Regions from separate parts of the Homo sapiens genome. Here region 2 is linked to region 1. The links come from fine-mapping of genetic effects on gene expression. A gene starts in region 1. The other region holds a variant in brackets. All regions are shown on one strand. Distances are between the middles of the regions.

The links.
Region 2: its variant is fine-mapped to the expression of STMN3 in blood mononuclear cells (TOPMed, PIP 0.93).

The regions. Positions count from the first base shown.
Region 1 is chr20:63,649,538-63,657,854 of GRCh38, reverse strand. It overlaps STMN3 (stathmin 3), which reads left to right and starts at 4,431. Exons shown (of 5, transcript NM_015894.4): 1 at 4,431-4,528. The coding sequence starts at 4,510. RTEL1-TNFRSF6B (RTEL1-TNFRSF6B readthrough (NMD candidate)) reads right to left here and starts at 45. Exons shown (of 38, transcript NR_037882.1): 1 at 1-45. It also overlaps a transcript of RTEL1 not described here. RefSeq lists enhancers at 3,093-3,771, 3,772-4,451, 5,728-6,298 and silencers at 4,594-4,643, 4,664-4,753.
Region 2 is chr20:63,607,575-63,615,891 of GRCh38, reverse strand. All of the region lies in intron 2 of GMEB2 (glucocorticoid modulatory element binding protein 2), which reads left to right. Among named protein-coding and RNA genes, the nearest start is that of GMEB2, 15 kb to the left of the region's middle. RefSeq lists enhancers at 1,764-1,933, 5,230-5,399. The variant G/A (reference allele first, on the strand shown) is at 3,435.

The DNA.
Region 1 (8,317 bases):
CCCTGAGTCCCCAGCACCCGGCACTGGCTGGCAGCAGGGCTGACTCCAAGAGCGAGGCCCGCACCGTTCTGTGGGGTCAGCCCAGCGTCACGGATGTTTGTCTCAGGCGGCCCCAGCTCCCATGCCCCAGAAGGCCCCAGAAGGCCCCAGGAGGGAGTTGGCGCTGCGTGACCGCGCACGGCCGGCAGGCAGCACTTCTTCGTGGCTTCTTCATGGCTGTGTTTAATGTCCACTGACGGCACATGCGAATGCCATGCGTGCCCACGCTCCTGGGTGTGAGATAGTGCTCGGAGAAGCCCCAGCACTCACTGGCACCCAGCCCCATGTGCCTGTTGTGGTGAAGGAACTGCAGGCTGCCTATCTGAGACTCGGCAGGGAGTTGAAGATGAGGAGACCAGCCACACACACTCGTTGAATGAATGGGCACCAAGCACAAGTTTCAGTGCCCCCCATACATGCTGATATGGTTCGGCTCTGTGTCTCCACCCAAGTCTCACCTCGAATTGTAATCCCCACGTGTGGAGGGAGGGACCTGGAGGGAGGTGGTTGGATCATGCGGTCAGTTTCCTCCAGGCTGTTCTGACAGTGAGTGCTCAGGAGACCCGATGGTTTAAAAGTGGCAGTTTCCCCTTCTCTCTCTCTTTCTCCTGCCGCCATGTACGACCTGGGAACTGGGACTAACATAGACTTCACCTTCTGCCATGATTCTTTTTTCTTTGAGACAGAGTTTTGGCTTTTTGCCCAGGCTGGAGTGCAGTGGCACAATCTTGGCTCACTGCAACCTCCACCTCCTGGGTTCAAGTGATTCTCCTGCCTCAGCCTCTCAAGTAGCTGGGATTACAGGTGTGCACCACTAAGCCCGGCTAATTTTTTATATTTTTAGTAGAGATGGAGTTTGACCGTGTTGGCCAGGCAGGTCTTGAACTCCTGACCTCAGGTGATCCACCCGCCTCGGCCTCCCAAAGTGCTGGGATTACAGGCGTGAGCCACCGCGCCCAGCCAGATAAGTCCTCTCATTGTCCACACTTTCTGGGTGAGAAAGTGAGGCACAGAGCGTTGAGCAGATTGCCCAGAGCCTGCTCAGGAGCCAGGAGTTTACCTTTTGCAGCCACACATCTCATCTCCTGAGAGCAGTGGCCAGAAAAGGCTGTCCTGTGGACTGAGCTGAAGTCTGAGTCATCTGCTCCTTGCCAGCTGCTATAGGAGCGTGCTGGCCTGGGGTGGTCAGGAACTCCTGTACCCCTGCCCTCTTCCTCTAATTGCTGACGTACCCACAGCTCCAGCATACAGCAGGTGCTTGACAGATGTCTGTTGAATGACTGAGTGTCCTGCTGAGATATAGGGCTCCTTCTAGGAGCCAGAGTTAATTTCTTTCTTTCTTTTTTTTTTTTGAGACAGAGTCTTGCTCTGTCGCCCAGGCTGGAATAGAGTGGTGCGATCTCGGCTCCCTGCAACCTCCACCTCCTGGGTTCAAGCGATTCTCCTGCCTCAGCCTCCTGAGTAGCTGGGATTACAGGTGCATGCCACCACGCCCGGCTAATTTTTGTATTTTTAGTAGAGATGGGGTTTCATCATGTTGGTCAGGCTGGTCTTGAACTCCTGACCTCGTGATCTGCCCACCTCAGCCTCCCAAAGTGTTAAGATTACAGGTGTGGGCCACCACGCCCAGCCAAGCCAGAGTTAATTTCAAGAATGCAGAGGTCTGATAAAAGTCACACTTTATGAAAAACATTTTTTTTTTTGAGGTGGAGTCTTGATATTGTTGCCCAGGCTGGAGTGCAGTGGTGGGATCTCGGCTCACTGCAACCTCTGCCTCCTGGATTCAAGTGATTCTCCTGCTTCAGCCTCCAAAGTAGCTGAGATTACAGGCACCTGCCACCACACCTGGCTAATTTTTGTATTTTTAGGGTAGATGGGGTTTCACCATGTTGGCCAGGCTGGTCTCAAACTCCTGACCTCAGGTGATCTGCCCACCTCGGCCCCCCAAAGTGTTGGGATTACAGTTGTGAGCCACTGCACCCAGTCAAAACATTTTTTTAACTAGCACTAATGTGCATGTGAAAAACATCTTTGAAATGCTCGTGCACTTTCTGCATTTGATCTTGGTGAGAAGTCAAAATCTGCTCCAAGACCTGGCACTATATTGGGGCAAACAGTCAGTACAGCTATTGTGTGCCTGCCAGCATGCTGTCATTACTCCTATTGCGTGTGCCTGCCAGTGCACTGAGAGTCAGTACACCTATGGCATGTGCCTGCTAGTGTGCTGTCAGTACAGCTGTTGTGTATGCCTGCTAGCACGCTGACAGTCAGTATGGCTGACAGTCAGTACCCCATTGCGTGTGCCTGCCTAGGTGCTGACAGTCAGTACCCCTGTTGTGTGTTCCTGCTAGTGCACACTGTGCACATCTACTGTGTTCCTGGCACTATGCCACGGGCTTCCACACACCTGGTCCCTGTGCTCCAGATGAGGACACAGAGGCTCAGAGAGGGCCTGGCCAGAGTCACAATGAGTGTGAGGCATTGCGGTGCTCTGAGCCTGACTGGGTGGGTCCTACCCCACCCACATGAGAAGACTCTGGAGGTCCCAGAGAGGGCTACTTCTCTTGATCCCTAGCACCTGAGCTCCAGCACCCGGGGCTGGAGTCTGCCTGAAGGATGCTGACCATCCCCAACTGCTACTGTGGTGGCCAACAGGGAGGACACAGCTGCTGTGGTGGGCAGCTCTGTGTGCCTCTCTGCCCTTCTTCCTCCTTCGCAGAGCTGGCTTCCTAGGAATGGCCCAGGGGCCAACACCTCTGTGTGTATATTAGTTTGATATGGCTTCATAGCAAATCACCACAAAACCAACAGCTTAAAACAACTCTCATTCATTACCTCCTAATTCTTAGTAACCCAAGGCTGAAACCAAGTGGGCAGTTGGGCTCAGTTCTTGTGTGGAGGCCCTGGGGTCAAACCTGCCTCCAAGCCCATTCTCTTCTTGTTGGCAGAACTCACTTCCTTGCAGTTAAGGTCTTGTTGTCTTGCTGGCTGTTGGCTGGGAGCAGTTCTCAGATCCTTGCCACGTGGCCCCCTCATCTCAACAACAGAAAACCTTCTTTGGTTTGATCCCTCCGATTTCTTCAACCAGGCAAAGGAAACTGCTTTTAAAGGGCTCCTGTGATGAGGTCAGGGCCCGCCTGGTGATCCTCCAGTCTTAAGGGTACCTCTGGGCCACACAATGTCACATTCCTGGGCATCACCCCCACCAGACTCACAGTCCCGGGGATGATGCCGGCTTGCACGTCAGGGGTCAGGACTCTCCAGGCCACCCTAGGATGTGACTGGCCTTGGGTGCTCCCACCGCACTGCTAGAGCTGAGGCTTGCCCCTGGCTTTTGTGTTGCTGAGCCAGCCTCATGGCTCTGCAAGTCTCCTGAGGTTTTCAGGGTTTTGCTCCTGGCCCTATGACTTAGTTGCTTGTAGGGCAAAGCACTTTTCTCCCTGCCTCGGTGGCTTCATCCCTGCAATGGCAAAGACGCTCCGTTTGCCTACCAGGCTTTCCCTTTGGGAGTTATGAGGAGAGGGGGAGGCAGGATAGGTTGCCCCCCACTCACTAAGTGCGCACAACCCTGGCACCCCTCCTCTCCATCGTCTGGGGGCATCATTGTTTCATCTTACCCCTGAGAAACAAAGGCCCAGCGAGGTCAGACGCTTGCCCTTGGCCTGGGCCACACAGTGAGTGAAGGTCTGAGCCCAGGCGGGAAACCACCTCTTTCACGGCAAAGCCTTTGTTCTGGCCTCACTCCTCCACTTTCACTCTTCTCCGCTCAGATCCTGCCCATCCCCTGGGCTCACAGGAGATGCCCCTTGGAGGCCTCCAGGCCAGCGCCCACCCCTGTGGCTGTGGCATCCTCTCCGATGGCAGGCACAGACCTGGACCCTGTTGGCGCCAGCCCAGCCTACAGCGGCCTTGGCGGCGAAGAGCTCTGCGGCCCCACCCCATGGGTGGGACCTGCTCCTCCGGCATTGCCCCTGCCCCGCCTGCCCTGGGGAATGGGGGCTCATCTCCACCCCCACCCCACTCTCAGGCCTCACAAAGCCAAGTTGGAGAAGCAGCTGTCCCGCTGTGAGCGGTTGGAGGGTGGGGGGTCTTGTTGCAGTTCGGGTAGCCCCCCTCCTCCGCCCTCTCCCCCTGAGAGCCGCGGCCCCTTCCGCAGCCAGGCGCTTGCTCCTCTCTCTCTTCCTCCCTCCCTTCCTCCCTCCCTCCTTCCCCCGCCCCCGCAGTCTCTCTCTCTCTCTCTCTCCTTCCCCCAACCCTCCCTCCCTCCTCCCCCCGCTCCTTCCCCCAACCCTCTCTCTCTCTCCCTCTGTCTCCCTCCCTCTCTCTCTCCCGCCGCGCCCGCCTCCCGCCCGCCCTCGCTCCCTCCACTCCTCTCCCCTCCCCTCCCCGGCACTGCAGCACCAGCCGTCTGCAGCTCCGGCCGCCACTTGCGCCTCTCCAGCCTCCGCAGGCCCAACCGCCGCCAGCACCATGGCCAGCACCATTTCCGGTAGGCTCCGGGGCCACGGGCTTTGTGGGGCGGCGGGATCTGAGCAGAGGCCTCGTCTGGCCTCGCCTGGGGCAGCGGCCGGCAGCGGACGCCAATTTCCCTTCTCCTACCCTGCGCGTTGCAAGCCTGGGCCCGACCCGCCCGAGGCTGGGGTCTGCGGCGCCGGCGGGGCTGGTGGGGCGCTGGGCTGCGAGGCGCCGCGCCGGGGAGCGCTCGGGACCGGGACGTCGGGCGGGGGCGCCTCGCCCCTGGGGGAGCAGCGTGCCACGCAGGGCGCGACTGCCGCAGGGTGGCTCCCAGACCCGGGCGTGGGCTCGCGACCGGGTGGGCGCGCTCGCGATGTGCGGGCGGGGTCCCTGGGGCGTCCGGCGACCCGAGATCTGGGTCCGCCAGAGCCTTCGTGGGGAGGCGGGGAGAGGGTGGGACCCTCTGCCAAAGCCCCAGCCGGGAACCCGGCGCTCCCCGCGCCAGTGCAGCACAGGGGCTGGAGGGGGCGCTGAAGGAGGGGGGCGGGCCAGACACGGCGGAGCCCGGAGTGAGGGGGACCGCGCCCTCCCCCCACACCGCTGCGGCCTCGGGGACCACCCTTTGCGACGCCCGCGCCACCTGCTCTGGCCAGAAAAGCCACTGCCCTTTGCGCCGCGGGGTCTGGATGGGGGAGGGGCGACTGCGATCCCCAAACCCTCCGGAGACCAGAGGGCTCCGCCCCTCCCGCCCCTCCACCTCCCGCGGGGCGGACCCACCGCCTTCGAAGGTAGCGCCCACCCCGGCCTCCCGGCCCGTCCCGCGCGGAGCTCAGGCGGAGGGGCGGGCGCAGGCCCGGGCGGGGGGCGGATTCTGGACGCAGGGGAGCTGCCGGGCGACCTCGGGCGCGAGGACGCTGGGCCCGCCCTTCCCGAAACGCTCTGCTCCGCCGCGAGGCCGCAGAACCCGCTTCGTTTTTCACTCGACGTTTGGGAGGACAGGACGAAGGGCCGCACCTCCTTCCCATCGCCGCCCCCGTTCACGAGCCGCACTCCCTCCCACCTTTTCTTACGCCCCCGGGACAGGTCGCCGCGGTCCCTCTCCCGAGCTGACTGGTTCAACTCGGGCGCCTTGGCCCGGGGCGCAGAACTCCGCCCACCCACGCGTGCCCGACCTGACCCCGCCCCTCAGGCCCCACGGGCTTGGAGGCTCCAGGTGACTTCAGCACCTGCCAGGAGGGGACCGTGTGTGTCACCGGCCACACCTCCCCACCCTATCTGGGAGTCCTGTCCATCTGCGCTTCCTCCCTCCGCCTCCTCCTGGACACCCCCGGGGATACTGGGGGTGGGGGGGCTCTCAGCGGAGGGGACTCCCCTCCTGCCCCTGAGGGCAGCGCCGTCCTCTCCAGGGCCGCCTCCTGCCCTTCCTGACAGCCTTTCCCTGACGGTCCCTCCCCATGGGCTCGGTTCCTGGGGCTGAGCTGGGAGGGCGAGGGCATCTCGGCATCTGGGCACTGGCTCCTCGCTCTTTTGTGGCCTCTGCTCACATTCTCCTTCTGCAACCCAGAGTCTGACCTCCTCCAGCTGTGTGGTGTTGTCCGAGCTGCCTAACCTCTCAGGACCTGGGTCTCCTTATCTGGGTAGAGATGACGGTGCTGGCACCTCTCCTGGGGCTTGTTCTGAGGCCTCAATATTTCAGGAAAGGTGCTTGGCCGCTTGCCTGCTAAGAGATGAGTGCTCACCGCACGTCAAGCAGCCTGACTGTGGTAGCCACATTTCTGAGTTTCCTGCCCAGGGAAAGGCAAATCGGCTGGTGGCTCCTGCCATGCTGTGCTCCTGGCACCATGAGAAGCAGCCTGGGTGACAGTGACCTCCATCTGCCCCCGGGGGGAGCCGGCAGCAGCCTCCAGGGCCCTCCAGGGGTCAGAGGCCACTGTGGTCCCCTGGCCTCTCAGTTCTGGACAGATCCCCCACCTCCGCGAGCTCCCAACAGGAGCCTGCAGTCAGGCCCAGGCTCATGACTGGGCTCTCACCCGGCACTCTGTGTGATGCTGGGTGGAATGCTTGCCCTCTCTGAGCCTTCATTCCTCCTCTGTAGAAGTGAGGCAGATAGGGTGGCTCATGCCTGTAATCCCAGCACTTTGAGAGGCTGAGGCCGGTGGATAAACTGAGGTCAAGAGTTCGAGACTAGCCTGGCCAACATGGTGAAATCCCCCCTCTCTGCTAAAAGTACAAAATTAGCCAGGTGTGGTGACACACTCCTGTGATCCCAGCAATCTGGGAGACTGAGGCAGGATAATTGCTTGACCCGGGGAGAGGGAGGTTGCAGTGAGCTGAGATTGTGCCATTGCACTCCAGCCTGGGCAGCAAGAGTAGAAACTCTTTCTAAAAAAAAAAAAAAAGAAGAAAGAAGAGGAGGAAGACGAAGAAGACGAAAGAGAAGGAGAAGGAGAGCTGATAAGGGCATCCACCCGGGTGGGCGGGAGGGGTGGGTGTGAGGTGTGACCCTGGGAGTGGGCACCATCCACCTGGGCGGCGGGAGGGGTGGGCGTGAGGTGTGACCCTGGGAGTGGGCACCATCCACCTGGACGGCGGGAGGGGTGGGCGTGAGGTGTGACCCTGGGAGCGGGCACCATCCACCCGGGCGGGCGGGAGGGGTGGGCGTGAGGTGTGACCCTGGGAGCGGGCACCATCCACCCGGGTGGGCGTCAGGTGTGACCCTGGGAGCGGGCACCATCCACCCGGGTGGGTGGGAGGGGCGGGCGTGAGGTGTGACCCTGGGAGTGGGCACCATCCACCTGGGCGACGGGAGGGGTGGGCGTGAGGTGTGACCCTGGGAGTGGGCACCATCCACCTGGACGGCGGGAGGGGTGGGCGTGAGGTGTGACCCTGGGAGTGGGCACCATCCACCTGGACGGCGGGAGGGGTGGGCGTGAGGTGTGACCCTGGGAGCGGGCACTACTATACCCTGCTGCTTGAGGCCAACCTGGTGCCTTTTTCTGACTCCTGCTCATGAATCATCCAAAGGCCAATCCGCATTTCCTCGGTATCTAATGTTTAGTACAAAGAGAAGCAGGGAGACAAAACAAGCCCAGCTCACTGCGAGAATTGTTTTTAACTCCCTGAAGTCAGTGAAGGGGAAGGATGGTGGGGAGGGGGCGGTGAGAAAGAAGGGAGTCAAAGAGAGGGAGGGGCCGGGCGCGGGGGCTCACGCCTGTAATCCCAGCACTGCGGGGGGCCAGGCGCGGGGGCTCACGCCTGTCATCCCAGCACTTTGGGAGGCTGAGGTGGGCAGATCACCGGAGGTCAGGAGTTCAAGACCAGCCTGGCCAACATGGTGAAACCTCATCTCTACTAAAAATACAGAAAATTAGCTGGGCATGGTGGCATGTGCCTGTAATTCTAGCTACTTGGGAGGCTGAGGCAGGAGAATCACTTGAACTGGGGAGGCAGAGGTTGCAGTGAGCCGACATCGCGCCACTGCACTCCAGCCTGGGTGACAGAGTGAGACCCCGTCTTAAAAAAAAAAAAAAAGTCCAGGCGCGGTGGCTCACACCTGTAATCCCAGCACTTTGGGAGGCTGAGACGGGCGGATCACAAGGTCAGGAGATCGAGACCATCCTGGCTAACACAGTGAAACCCCGTCTCTACTAAAAATACAAAAAATTAGCTGGGCGTGGTGGCGGGCGCCTGTAGTCCCAGCTATTCGGGAGGCTGAGGCAGGAGAATGGCGTGAATCCGGGAGGCGGAGCTTGCCGTGAGCCGAGATTGTACCACTGCACTCCAGCCTGGGAGACAGAGTGAGACTCCGTCTCCAAAAAAACAA
Region 2 (8,317 bases), 42 kb after region 1:
TTAAACCTTTTTATTATTAAACTCACGTACATGTTGAAAAGCACCCCAGGTCCTCATGTTCCGCTGGATGAACCCCCACAAAGGGAGCATGGGGCGTCGCCACACCGTGGAGCCCTGCACGTGCCCCTCGCGTTCCCAGCATGAGACCCCACTGTACACACAGCTTCCATTCTGGTTTGGCTTTAGTTAATGATCTTTGTCTTTCCATGTTGATGAATTTTCATCTCTTCTAATATTCAATTCAAATTTAAATTTCTTCCTATGTTGGCCAGGCCTGGTGGCTCCTGCCTGTAATCTGAGCACTTTGGGAGGCTGAGGTGGGAGGGTTGCTTGAGCCCAGGAGTTGAGACCAGCCCGAGCAACATAGTGAAACCTCGTCTCTACAAAAAATATAAAAATTATTTGGGTGTGGTGGCATGCACCTATGGTCCCAGCTGCATGGGAGGTTGAGGCGGGAGGATTGCTTGAGCCTGAGAGAGGTTGAGGCTGCAGTGAGCCAAGGTCATGCCACTGCACTGCAGCCTGGGTGACAGGGTGAGATCCTGTCTCAAAAAAAAGAAAAAAGGAAAAGTTTCTTTCCCCGCAAAGTGGCTTTTACTGTTGGTTTGTCCAAGTTGGAGACCATCCCATTTAGTCCTCATATTGCCCATTAGCATGTCACTCAGAAAAGTCTCTTTTTCGTGAACTGGCTCAACGAGGAGACTGGGCCAGATGTCCTGCAGGTGCCTTGCTGGGTTTGGAGGATCGCAATTCACTACAGCAGCTGAGTCGTGCCTAGGCTCCAGTCTACAAAGCCAGGGTGTAGGGACCAGCCCCACAGGGTTGGTGGGTTTTCTCCTCGTATGCGGAGATGAGAGAGTGTAGAAATAAAGACACAAGACAAAGATAAAAGAAAAAGACAGCTGGGCCTGGGGGACCACTACCACCAAGACGCGGAGACTGGTAGCGGCCCCGAATGCCAGGTTGCGCTATTTATTGGATACAAGACAAAGCGGCAGGGTAAGGAGTGTGAACCATGTCCAGTGATAGGTAAGGTCATGTGGGTCACGTGCCCACTGGCCAGGGGGCCCTTCCCTTCCTGGCAGCTGAGGCAGAGAGAGAGGAGAGAGAGAGAGAGACCGCTTACGCCATTATTTCTGCTTATCAGAGACTTTCAGTACTTTCACTAATTTGCTGCTGCTATCTAGAAGGCAGAGCCAGGTGCACAGGATGGAACATGAAGGCGGACTAGGAGCGTGACCACTGAAGCACAGCATCACAGGGAGACGGTTAGGCCTCCGGATAACTGCGGGCGGGCCTGACTGATGTCAGGCCCTCCGCAAGAGGTGGAGGAGTAGAGTCTTCTCTAAACTCCCCCGGGGAAAGGGAGACTCTCTTTCCTGGTTTGCTAAGTAGCGGGTGTTTTTCCTTGACACTGAGGCTACCGCTAGACCACGGTCCACTTGGCAACGGGCGTCTTCCCAGATGCTGGCGTTACCGCTAGACCAAGGAGCCCTCTGGTGGCCCTGTCCAGGCATAACAGAAGGCTCGCACTCTTGTCTTCTGGTCAGTTCTCACTATGTCCCCTCAGCTCCTATCTCTGTATGGCCTAGTTTTTCCTAGGTTATGATTTCCTAGTTTTTCCTAGGTTATGCTTAGGCAAGGATTATTATAATATTGGAATAAAGAGTAATTGCTACAAACTAATGATGAATGATATTCATATATAATCATATTTATGATCTATATCTAGTATAACTATTCTTATTTTATGCATTTTATTACACCGGAACAGCTCGTGCCCTCGGTCTCTTGCCTCGGCACCTAGGTGGCTTGCCGCCCATACCAGGGTCCATCTGATGGAGTGGGTGTTGCCCAGTCTGACAAATGCAGGGCGGCCTTCACATCCTAGGGGGTCTCTTTACCCTGCCCTGCTCTGCACTCTTCCCTCCCCCTCCTGTCCAGACCACCCACATGCTAGACTCTCACACCCAAGAGAAGTCTCACGAACATGTCGCAGGAGCATCAAGGACACTGGAGTTACCCATTTGAAATGTGGAGAGTTCAACATTAAGTACATTTTTATTGATAAACAAAAATGGGCCAGGCGCAGTGGCTCACACCTGTAATCCCAGCACTTTGGGAGGCCAGGGTGGGTGGATCACTTGTCAGGAATTTGAGACCAGTCTGGCCAACATGGTGAAACCCCGTCTCTACTAAAAGTACAAAAATTAGCCAGGCGTGGTGGCGGGCGCCTGTAATCCAGTTGGGAGGCTGCAGCAGGAGAATTGCTTGAACCAGGGAGATGGAGGTTACAGTGAGCCGAGATTGTGCCACTGCACTCCAGCCTGGGTGACAGAGCGAGACTCAGTCTCAAAAAAAAAAAAAAAAGAAAACAAAAATGTTGTAGTAATAAAATCCTGCACAGTTGTCTTCGTACACAGTTGTGGCTTAGAGCTCTCCTCTGTGGGTGTCTTGCCGGCTGGTGGCAGTGACGGACCAGGGCAGTGGCAGACACAGGCGCACGGCTGGCGCAGTGCCCTGGAGGCTGGTGTCCCACTTGCTGTCTTGGTTTCCTGTGGTCACTGTGGAAGGTGGCTCCTGTAGGTTAGCTTTGCTTTATGAACACTGAGTAGGAGCTTTTTTTCTAGGATGTTAAAAGAATTTGCTCACATCTTATGCTTGAGTTAACTCTTTGAAGAACAGTGAGAAGTAGAGAGGAAATAATTGCCAAGTTCTCTTGCTTGCTCTGTTTATGATTGTGTCAGTTTTCTTTTGCTGTTTAAGAAAACACCCAATGGCAGGCACCTGTAGTCCCAGTTACTCAGGAGGCTGAGGCAGGGGAATGGCGTGAATCCGGGGGGCAGAGCTTGCAGTGAGCCAAGATTGCGCCACTGCACTCCAGCCTGGGCAACAGAGTGAGACTGCGTCTCCGAAAAAAAAAAAGAAAAAGAAAGAAAGAAACCATCCAAAACTTAGTGGCTTAAGACAAGACATAGTTGTTATTATTTTTAATTCTGTTGGTTGGTTCGTGGTTCTGCTGGTCTGGGCCGGCCTCACCAACCCCTGTCGTCAGCTGACAGCTTGGCAAGGACCTGCTGGTCTGGGTGGCCTTGGCCACAGGGGTCTCTGGAGGGAGGCAGTCTGAGGCACAGGTAGGCTCGGCTGGGTGGCTCTCCTCTGCTTTGCCCGGTCTGTGATCCTCCACCTGGAGGCCTGGACTTCTTTGCCCCGTAAGCCCACAGTTGCAGAGGAAAGTGGGCCTCCTGCTCACTTCTGTTGCCTTGATTGACGCAAGCGACATCACCAAGTGCTGGTTCAAGGGCAGAGCTAAGACTGCCTCTTGGTAGGAAGTTACAAAACGTTGAGATCATTTCTGTGGCCACAGAATGACATTTCCATTCGTCCGCCTCCCGCCTTTTCCTGGGCCTTCCCAGCTCACCCCTTGTGGCCAC[G/A]TCGGGTCTGGGTGTGGCTGGGGCTTCTTGGTTATGGCACGTCTTGATCCAGAGACTGGTGAACTAAAACCTAGCGACTTCCCCTCCCCTACTGAGCGTGCGGTGGCAGACAAGACAGGACGGGCTCCAGGGCAGGTGGCTTGTTCGAAGGCACCTCACTGATCCAAGATGGGGCAGGGTGGCCCTTTGGCCAGATGCGGCCAGAAAGCTTTCTAAGGTGTGAGGGAAGAGTGACAACCATAGCCCAGGTTGGTCTTTATTCTGAGACCATCTCTTTTTTAAATTTTCTATTTTTTATATTTTTTCCTTTCTTAGATTTCTGTGGGTCAGAACCATTTTTTACCTTGACAGAGTCTTTTGCCAGTGGAGAAACTGGAGACATGAAATGATTTTTTGTTTTTCGAAACAGAGTCTCGTTCTGTTGCACAGACTGGAGTGCAGTGGCACAGTCACGGCTCATGGCAGCCGTGACCTCCTGGGTTCAAGGAATCGTCCTGCCTCAGCCTCCTGAGTAGCTGGGACTCTACAGGCATGTGCCACCATGCCCGGCCCCGTGTAGATTTTTAGTACAGTGCTGGGACTGCAGGCATGTGCCACCACGCCTGGCTAATGGGCTCTCACTGTGTTGCCCAAGCTAGTCTTGAACTCCTGGACTCAAGCAGTCCTCCCACCTCAGCCTCCCGAAGCACTGGGGTTACAGGCTTGAGCCACCATGTCTGGCCGATGCAAAACAATTTGATCCCCTGGGGATTCCTTGTTTGGAGAAGAACCTTCTAGCTCCACTGTGTCTGGAATGTTCCTTGCGAGATCACACTAGTCAGATGTGTTTCCTTTTTTTTTTTTGAGACCAAGTCTCACTCCGTCACACAGGCTGGAGTGCAGTGGCATGATCTCAGCTCACTGCAGCAGCCTCCACCTCCCGGGTTCAAGTAAATCTCTTGCCTCAGCCTCCTGAATAGCAGGGATTACAGGCACCCGCCACCACGCCTGCCTAAATTTTGTATTTTTCGTAGAGACAGGGTTTCACCATATTGGCCAGGCTGGTCTTGAACTCCTGACCTCAAGTGATCCACCACCTTGGCCTCCCAAAGTGCTGGGATTATAGGCATGAGCCACCACGCCCAGCCTGTTTCTTCTCTTTTAAATTGCTGTGGCATAAGGTCCTGCCAAGGTTTCCTCTGCCTCATGGCACAGTGGCCCCTTCCACACACAAGAGCCGGGTCTGGGATGGCATTTGTGCCCTTAGCCTGTGCCCTCTCCCCACGCAGAGGCGGTGCTGTGTGTCCCAGGCTGGGGACAGCAGTGCTTGTTTCTGGCAGTTTCTGAATTAGCCATGCTTGCAGCCTAACAAACCACCGCAGAGCTTGGTGGCTTAAAGCAGCAGACACTGGTCATTTCTTAAGGTTTTCGGGCCTGGGCTGGTGCTGCTGGGCCTCGCCGGGGGGTCCAGGCTGGGCTCACTTGCATATCCGGGCATTGGTGGGCTGGCCGAGGCTCTGCATGTGGTCCTCATCTGCCAGGACACCTGCCTGGGTGTGCTTAGCAGGAGGAGAGCCAGAGTCCTCGTAGGGCCTCGTCACAGCCTCTTGGTCAAAGCTCTTCAAAGCTTGGCCCAAAGTCAAGTGGAGGGGGTGGGAAATAGCCCCCTGTCTTGATGGAGGGAGCCATGAAGGACCAGAGGGCATTTTTCAGTCTGCAGTTGCTTTGCCAGGACGCCAAGGCTCTGCCCTCGCGGGACAGTGGCTTATGGAGCAGTGGAGAGTCTGCATGCGCCTTCTTCTCTGAGAAGAGAACCCCACGTGGCAGCTGAGGCAGGGCTGTCTTGAAGGACTTAAAGATCCTCTTCTTTTTTGTGGGGAATTAAATCTGTTCTTCTACCATCTGGAAATTGAGACTTCCTCTTGCTACATGTTTTTTTTGTTTTGTTTTCTTTTTTTGAGACAGATTCTCACTCTGTCGCCCAGACTGGAGTGCAATGGCGCGATCTCGGCTCACTGTAACCTCCACCTCCCGGGTTCACGCCATTCTCTTGCCTCAGCCTCCTGAGTAGCTGGGCCTACAGGCGCCCGCCACCACGCCCGGCTAATTTTTTGTATTTTTAGTAGAGACGGGGTTTCACCGTGTTAGCCAGGATGGTCTCGATCTCCTGACCTTGTGATCCGCCTGCCTCGGCCTCCCAAAGTGCTGGGATTACAGGTGTGAGCCACCGTGCCCGGCTGGTGTGCGTGTGTTTTTAAGCAAACTTCTGGAAGTTTAGAAGTGCACACATCATACAGTTGGCTGTTATGAGGTGCACAGCTGGGAACCCCACCCAGACCTCTCCCAGCTTCTCCACATCATCTCCCCAGAGGCAGCTGCCCGCACGGGTTCCAGAAACTGGAGACTTGTTCCCTGTTTCAGACAACCCTCATGCCAGTGTGGGAACACCATGTCTGCAGGATTAATTTCTAGAAATGGAGGTGGAGTCAGAGGGGCATGTTTCTAGAAATGGAGGTGGGGTCAGAGGGGCATGTTTCTAGAAATGGAGGTGGGGTCAGAGGGGCATGTTTCTAGAAATGGATGTGTGGGTCAGAGGGGCATGTTTCTAGAAATGGAGGTGAGGTCAGAGGGGCATGTTTCTAGAAATGGAGGTGTGGGTCAGAGGGGCATGTTTCTAGAAATGGAGGTGGGGTCAGAGGGGCATGTTTCTAGAAATGGAGGTGGGGTCAGAGGGACATGTTTCTAGAAATGGAGGTGTGGGTCAGAGGGGCATGTTTCTAGAAATGGAGGTGGGTCAGAGGGGCATGTTTCTAGAAATGGAGGTGGGTCAGAGGGGCATGTTTCTAGAAATGGATGTGGGGTGAGAGGGGCATGTTTCTAGAAATGGAGGTGGGTCAGAGGGGCATGTTTCTAGAAATGGAGGTGAGGTCAGAGGGGCATGTTTCTAGAAATGGAGGTGGGGTCAGAGGGGCATGTTTCTAGAAATGGATGTGGGGTCAGAGGGACATGTTTCTAGAAATGGATGTGGGGTGAGAGGGGCATGTTTCTAGAAATGGAGGTGGGGTCAGAGGGGCATGTTTCTAGAAATGGAGGTGAGGTCAGAGGGGCATGTTTCTAGAAATGGATGTGTGGGGTCAGAGTGGCATGTTTCTAGAAATGGAGGTGAGTCAGAGGGACATGTTTCTAGAAATGGATGTGTGGGGTCAGAGGGGCATGTTTCTGGAAATGGAGGTGGGTCAGAGGGGCATGTTTCTAGAAATGGATGTGTGGGGTCAGAGTGGCATGTTTCTAGAAATGGAGGTGAGTCAGAGGGACATGTTTCTAGAAATGGATGTGTGGGGTCAGAGGGGCATGTTTCTGGAAATGGAGGTGGGTCAGAGGGGCATGTTTCTAGAAATGGAGGTGTGGGGTCAGGGGCATGTTTCTAGAAATGGAGGTGTGGGTCAGAGGGACATGTTTCTAGAAATGGAGGTGTGGGTCAGAGGGGCATGTTTCTAGAAATGGAGGTGAGTCAGAGGGGCATGTTTCTAGAAATGGAGGTGGGGTCACAGGGGCATGTTTCTAGAAATGGAGGTGAGGTCAGAGGGGCATGTTTCTAGAAATGGATGTGGGGTCAGAGGGGCATGTTTCTAGAAATGGAGGTGTGGGTCAGAGGGGCATGTTTCTAGAAATGGAGGTGGGGTCAGAGGGGCATGTTTCTAGAAATGGATGTGGGGTCAGAGGGACATGTTTCTAGAAATGGAGGTGGGGTCAGAGGGGCATGTTTCTAGAAATGGATGTGGGGTCAGAGGGACATGTTTCTAGAAATGGAGGTGGGGTCACAGGGGCATGTTTCTAGAAATGGAGGTGAGGTCAGAGGGGCATGTTTCTAGAAATGGATGTGGGGTCAGAGGGACATGTTTCTAGAAATGGAGGTGGGGTCAGAGGGGCATGTTTCTAGAAATGGATGTGGGGTCAGAGGGACATGTTTCTAGAAATGGAGGTGGGGTCAGAGGGGCATGTTTCTAGAAATGGATGTGGGGTCAGAGGGACATGTTTCTAGAAATGGATGTGGGGTCACGGGCATGTTTCTAGAAATGGAGGTGAGGTCAGAGGGGCATGTTTCTAGAAATGGATGTGGGGTCAGAGGGGCATGTTTCTAGAAATGGATGTGGGGTCAGAGGGGCATGTTTCTAGAAATGGAGGTGAGGTCACAGGGGCATGTTTCTAGAAATGGAGGTGTGGGTCAGAGGGGCATGTTTCTAGAAATGGAGGTGAGGTCAGAGGGGCATGTTTCTAGAAATGGAGGTGAGGTCACAGGGGCATGTTTCTAGAAATGGATGTGGGGTCAGAGGGGCATGTTTCTAGAAATGGATGTGGGGTCACGGGCATGTTTCTAGAAATGGAGGTGAGGTCAGAGGGGCATGTTTCTAGAAATGGATGTGGGGTCAGAGGGGCATGTTTCTAGAAATGGATGTGGGGTCAGAGGGGCATGTTTCTAGAAATGGAGGTGAGGTCACAGGGGCATGTTTCTAGAAATGGAGGTGTGGGTCAGAGGGGCATGTTTCTAGAAATGGAGGTGAGGTCAGAGGGGCATGTTTCTAGAAATGGAGGTGAGGTCACAGGGGCATGTTTCTAGAAATGGAGGTGGGGTCAGAGGGGCATGTTTCTAGAAATGGAGGTGTGGGTCAGAGGGGCATGTTTCTAGAAATGGATGTGGGGTCAGAGGGGCATGTTTCTAGAAATGGATGTGGGGTCAGAGGGGCATGTTTCTAGAAATGGAGGTGGGGTCACAGGGGCATGTTTCTAGAAATGGAGGTGTGGGTCAGAGGGGCATGTTTCTAGAAATGGATGTGGGGTCAGAGGGGCATGTTTCTAGAAATGGATGTGTGGGTCAGAGGGGCATGTTTCTAGAAATGGAGGTG